Regions from separate parts of the Homo sapiens genome. Here region 2 is linked to region 1. Evidence: fine-mapped expression QTL. A gene starts in region 1. The other region holds a variant in brackets. All regions are shown on one strand. Distances are between the middles of the regions.

The links. PIP is the estimated chance that this variant, and not a neighbour inherited with it, causes the effect.
Region 2: its variant is fine-mapped to the expression of CMC2 in whole blood (TOPMed, PIP above 0.99).

What each region holds. Positions count from the first base shown.
Region 1 is chr16:81,005,087-81,007,991 of GRCh38, reverse strand. It overlaps CMC2 (C-X9-C motif containing 2), which reads left to right and starts at 1,107. Exons shown (of 4, transcript NM_020188.5): 1 at 1,107-1,258. CENPN (centromere protein N) reads right to left here and starts at 778. Exons shown (of 11, transcript NM_001100624.3): 1 at 715-778. RefSeq lists enhancers at 270-409, 720-829 and a silencer at 1,000-1,369.
Region 2 is chr16:81,061,073-81,063,977 of GRCh38, reverse strand. C16orf46 (chromosome 16 open reading frame 46) reads left to right here. Exons shown (of 4, transcript NM_152337.3): 3 at 1-232; 4 at 1,840-2,905. The coding sequence starts at 23. The coding sequence ends at 2,817. Among named protein-coding and RNA genes, the nearest start is that of C16orf46-AS1, 9.5 kb to the left of the region's middle. The variant A/C (reference allele first, on the strand shown) is at 1,474.

The DNA of each region.
Region 1 (2,905 bases):
GGGATTACAGGCACCCGATACCACGTCCGGTTAATTTTTGTATTTTTAGTAGAGACGGGGTTTCACCATGTTGGCCAGGCTGGTCTCGAACTCCTGACCTAAGGTGATCCGCCCACGTCGGTCTCCCAAAGTGTTGGGATTACAGGCGTAAACTACCGCGCCTGGCCCCATTTTAAAACTTTCTTTATACTTCCTAGCGTTTTAGTGTCTGACATACAGTAGATGCTCAAGATCTGTGGAACGCATGATCAAAAAGATCCATTTTAAGTAACGTTCCCGTAGCCACACACCTCTGCTGCGCTCCAACAGGCAATGCGAGGAGCAACGCAAGAGGGTACAGGGACAAAAAACGACGGAAGCCGAGGTGACAGAAAAGCAAAACCCCAACTCTGGGAAAGGAAGCAACCCCAGGATCGTAGAGCGGAGCCCCTGGTCACATGACCACACGGCCCTCCCCTGACGCAGTCGCGAGCCTACGAAAGGCTCCACCCGCCCCACCGCGGGCGAGGTGACGTCACAGCCGGCACAGCGCCACCGCCCCCTCACCTCGGCCCGAACCGTAGTTCCTCGCCCCGAGCCCGAGACCCAGCGCCAATCCTGCGCCTCACAACGTGCGACAATTGCGAAAAAGCCACCCCCGAGGCCTGGGATCTGGCTTCCTCAAGGCCCCACACCCTCCGGGGCCCGATCCAGTGCCGCCCGGGGCTCTCTTACCGGCCCACATCTCCTGCAGTCTCACTCCTCAAGAGCTGTTCCCGCTCGCCGCGCCTTCAAAGCCACCAATTGCAGTTCCCGCCGCCTCCAAGCTCCGCCCACCGGAGCACAAGCATCAGGCTGTGTCTTGGGCACAGGGGACTGCACGGGGGAGCGACTGAAGCGAAGGTCGCCGAGCCCCCCACGCCGCTCTTCTTAGAAGTGTGCAACCTTGCACCAGTAGTGGACTTACACATAGGCTCCGTTAGGACCTGGCTTATGTGCTCGGCTTGTGGCTTAGACGCTGCCGTGCCCCAGTGGACTCACTGTGCCTCCCCCCACGACGGACGGAAATGGGCCCCTCCAGGACAGGCGGCGCATGCGCCTTGGGGCCCGCGGGCGGCGGGGGCGAGGAGCCGGGAGCACGGTGGAGCGGTGGAGGGCGTCACTGGGTTTCGGCGTCTGGCAAGCGGTTCAGCTGTCTGCTCCCTAGCAGCCGGCCTTCGGGTCGGGCGTCTCCGCCGGCTACTGCCGCTTCAGTTCTCCCGGTGTGGCCACGAGTCGGGTGAGTCTCGGGAGTCCAGGCCGTTCCGAACGCGTTCCGTTGTTCCTCCTCAGGTCCCTGATGGCGCGTCCCGCCGAGCCCCTTCCTGCCGCCCGTCGGCCCCAGGAGGTGGGGACCAGGAAGACCCGGCTGCCGCAGGCCCACAGCCGGGCTGCTGCGCTGGGGAGGCTGCGAGCGAGGTGGCTGGGCGCTCGCTGGAACACGCTGGTGGCCGAGACAGGCCGTGGGCGTCGCTCGGGGTTGGGATCCGCCCGCCACTCACTCAACTGGCTGGTGACCTTGGGCGCGCTCCTCCCCTCCCGGAGCCGGGGCTTCCTCGCCGGTAAAATGGACCTTGAGGAATGGAGCCCTCAACACAGGGTTTGACACGATGAGCGCCCAATAAAGTGTTGTTATTGTTGTTTATCTAGCAATTGAGAATTTGCGGGTAGAAAACGGGGGCCGTTCAAGCAAGTCTCAGCTGCAGTGCCCTGTGATGTGAGAACCCACCAAGAGCCCCATCAGTACACTTTACTCTTTTTTCTCCTTTAATGCTTTTTTTTTCCAGGAAAGTAATACATTCATCTTGCTTTTCTTGCGTTTAAAGATCAGGCGTTTTACGTAGAGTCTTAAGTAAATCAGTTTTGGAAGTCTTCATTTAAAACCTCAAAGGCATGGAAGTTTTCGATGGCAAAGGAATTATGTTGTGATGCCATTCGTATCTCCTCTCCTTTATATGTATGGCTTTTGCACTTGTTTAGTTGATTTAAAATGAGTTTCTTTTTCATCCTTTTCCTACTGCGTTGAGGCCTGAACTAGTTGTCAGTTTCTGACATTCCGCGAACATCGATTGGGCATTTACCATGTGCATTGGCAAGAATGCTCCCTCACGAGCCTGTGCGTTCCTTGAGATGTGTGAACGAGTATTTTCCTCTGAAATTCACATGATTCTGGCAGAGTGCTAGGCACCTTGTAAGTCCTGGTAATGTTTATTCAGGGAAAGCTGCGAGGGCGCATTCTCTGAGAAACTCTTCGGTGGAAGTCAGAGTAGTTAAGCCCTTCTCCCTAGGCAGCACCCCCGGGTCCCTCCCAGAAGCAGCCTGGCATGGGGTCTACAGTGCCAGCGCCAGTCGCTTTCTTAGTGGTATCGGTTTAGAACTGGTCCTGTGATAAGTGGAAGTGGGCAGGGGAGGCCGTCCCCGACCGTGTCTGCGACCTCTGCTGCAGTATGGCTCATAGCTTGAAAAGTTGAAAAATAATTCTTTAATACCAGGGCCGAAATGTAGGCCTTAAAAATGTTTTATGTTATTTATTTATATATATATATATTTAAATTTTATTTTGAGACGGCGTCTTGTTTTGTCGCCCAGGCTGGAGTGCAGTGGCGCGATCTCGGCTCACTGCAACCTCCACCTCCCGAGTTCTAGTGATTCTCGTGCCTCAACCTCCTGAGTAGCTAGGGTTACAGGCCACGCCTGGCTAATTTTTGTATTTTTAGTAGAGACGGGGATTCACCATGTTGGCCAGGCTTGTCCTGACCTCAAGTGATCTGCCTGCCTCGGCCTCCCGAAGTGGTGGGATTACAGGCGTGAGCCACCGCGCCTAGCCTAAAAAGATATATTTTAGAAAGCGGAGTGTTTACAGTTTTTTTTTCTGGAGAACAGTTTC
Region 2 (2,905 bases), 56 kb before region 1:
ACTTTAAGCAAGCATCACAGTAATGGATCTCTGTCAGAAAAATGAGACTGACTTAGAAAATGCTGAAAATAATGAAATTCAGTTCACAGAAGAAACAGAACCAACCTATACTTGTCCAGATGGAAAAAGTGAAAAAAATCATGTTTATTGTCTTCTCGATGTCAGTGACATTACGCTTGAACAAGATGAAAAAGCCAAAGAGTTTATTATTGGAACTGGATGGGAAGAGGCAGTGAGTATCTTTCTGAGTCACAGCTTTTCTGTCTCTCGCACATCAGTGTTTTGGTGCAAGCCTCTTTTTCCCAAAAATAGTTAATATTACCAAAAAATGTGGAATCAATGACATGTAGAAACCCTGGAATTGAGGTAAAATATTACTGATGATAAGAGCAGCACCTACTGTGGGTATTTATGGCCACTTAGTATGTGGACAGCACAGTACTAAGTACTTTGGATACATTAATTCATCTAACCTCTCAATAGCCATATGGGGCAAGTTTTCTTCCCAGCCTCGCTTTGTGGATGAGTATACTGAGTCACTTGGAAGATAAAGTTACATGCTCGAGATCACCCAGCCAATAAGTGGCCAAGGCAGGGCTTGAATCCAGGTCTCCTGGACTCTAGAACCCTGAGCTCCTTAGCAGCTGTGCTGAACTCCCTGAGAGAACTGAGGCTTCTTTCCTAATGGCTCTACTCAGAACTCTGTGGGTTTTTTTTTTTTTTTTTTTTTTCCCTGAGATGGAGTCTCTTTCTGTCGCCCAGGCTGGAGTGCAGTGGCGCGATCTTGGCTCACTGCAACCTCTGCCTCCTGAGTTCAAGCGATTCTCCTGCCTCAGCCTCCTGAGTAGCTGGGATTATAGGTGCCCACCATGCCCAGCTAATTTTTGTATTTTTAGTAGAGACGGGGTTTCACCATATTGGCCAGGCTGGTGTCAAACTCTTGACCTTAGGTGATCTGCCCACCTCAGCCTCCCAAAGTGCTGGGATTACAGGCCTGAGCCACTGCGCCTGGTCTGCAGGCTTACTCTTAAACAATTCATAGAATCAACAATAGAATCCTATATTTAAAACTATAAGAAAACTAAAAAAAAAAAAAAAGCATAAAACTATGAGAAAACTTGGTCTAATCCAGTGATTAAACATAGGATTACCAGATAAATACCTAATTTATCAGTATAAGTATGTCCAAAATGTGGTCCTATATTTTTACTGGCAACCCTTTTTTAATGGTGATCTCTGTGGCAAGATCAGCCAGAGGACTCTGGGCGTGTATGGGGAGTAGGTATCCCTGGGTACGCAGGGCTCCTCTGCATTCCAGGACCTGCCTCTGCTCCTCGGTCTCCCTCCAGCCTCTCCAAGCAACAGTGTTCCCCAGGTAAGGGAAGCAGAGACTGGCGGTGCCCGAAATCCTTGTTGGTGGGACAAGTATGAACGGTTTTCATTTTATTTTAATGGCTTCAAATTTAAATGTGC[A/C]TTTGAAAAGAAATATAGTCAGCACATCAAAGTGGCCATTTACAAATACTGTTGCTTAGTGTTTTAGTATTAACAAATGCTCTTGCTAGTATTTAGGATTAACAAATACTATTACAAATACTGTTATTGCTTTATAGCGGTGAAAGTAGGTATTACACTTTTTCATGCTTTGCAACTTTGAAGGATTTTTTTTTTAAGTGAATGAATTTTAAGAAAATTATTAGTGGGGGAAGGGGTAGTAAAAAAATAAATAAAAATAAGAATATTGTTTCACATAAGACTGCCAAAATGGGAATGTGGCCAAAATTGGGGCAAGGACAGTTTGGGCCCCTCAGCTGGAGGAGTAACATGCCGCTTTATTTGCAGGTCCAAGGGTGGGGAAGGACTTCTCCAGCTGCCTGCATCTGGCCGAGGAAGATACCAAAAAAGGCGAGGGTAGGGGAAGGTGCCTGCAGCGACTGCTTGGTGTGTGTTAACCTCTCCCACTGGAGCCTCCAGACCAAGCCTCCTACTGAGGGGGGCCCAGAGAAGGATCAGAGCAGCCCCTCCCAGACTCAGGCAGCCCCCCAGGGCCCCAGCACTGCTTCCAGGGCAATTAGCGACATCTGCTTTCCCACCTACTTTCGAGCAGAGAAAAAAAGTCTGCAAATCAAGGAGTTTATTTGGTGCAACAAAGACTGGGCCATCCCCGGCACTAATAGGGGCAAGGCCTCTGGGAATCCCAGTGGAGGGGCCCACAGAGGGCTGTCCATCCCAGGCCCCCTGACTTCCAGGGCCCTCCTAGTTCTGCCTCCCCTGAAGGCTTCACTTTCAAATGCTTTGGATGTTCTGGGTAAGAAGAGTAAGAACTCTTTCTTGCAGTCAGAAGAGAAGGTGCTGGATGTGGAAAAGGATGGGTGTGTGGCTTATGCATATGGCTTGAAAACAGCAGATGGGAAAGGTGAAAAAAGAGCCAGTGAGCTGGCCAAACACCCTATGGTCAACGACACGCCATCCTCCCCTTCCCCAGCGGCCCAGATATCCCTGCTGACCGATCCGGAGCAGCGCTGCCTGCATTGGTCCCTCCTGTCTGAGAAAAACCTGGCGTGCCCTCCAGACCCCAGCAACGTTCGCTACCTTGCTGCCTTGCAGCTTCTGCAGAAACGGGGAGTGCAAAGCTACAAATCCAAATTCAAAGCCAAGGAGCCAAGATCTCCTGTGATCACCCGAAAGCATGTTCTCCCAAAGGCCAAGCAGGAAAACAGGCCCCAAATGCTGGAGACCAAAGTTTTCCCAAGACCTGTCTTGCCGTCTCTCACAGTGAGCAGAGTTATCATTCCTGTCTCTACCCACAGGATCCTCTGAGCGGTTGCGGTAGAACCCCTGGGAATAAGCACCGTTTGAGATGCAGCCATCCTTTCTCTTTCTTCTCTCTCATTTCCCACCCACCCCC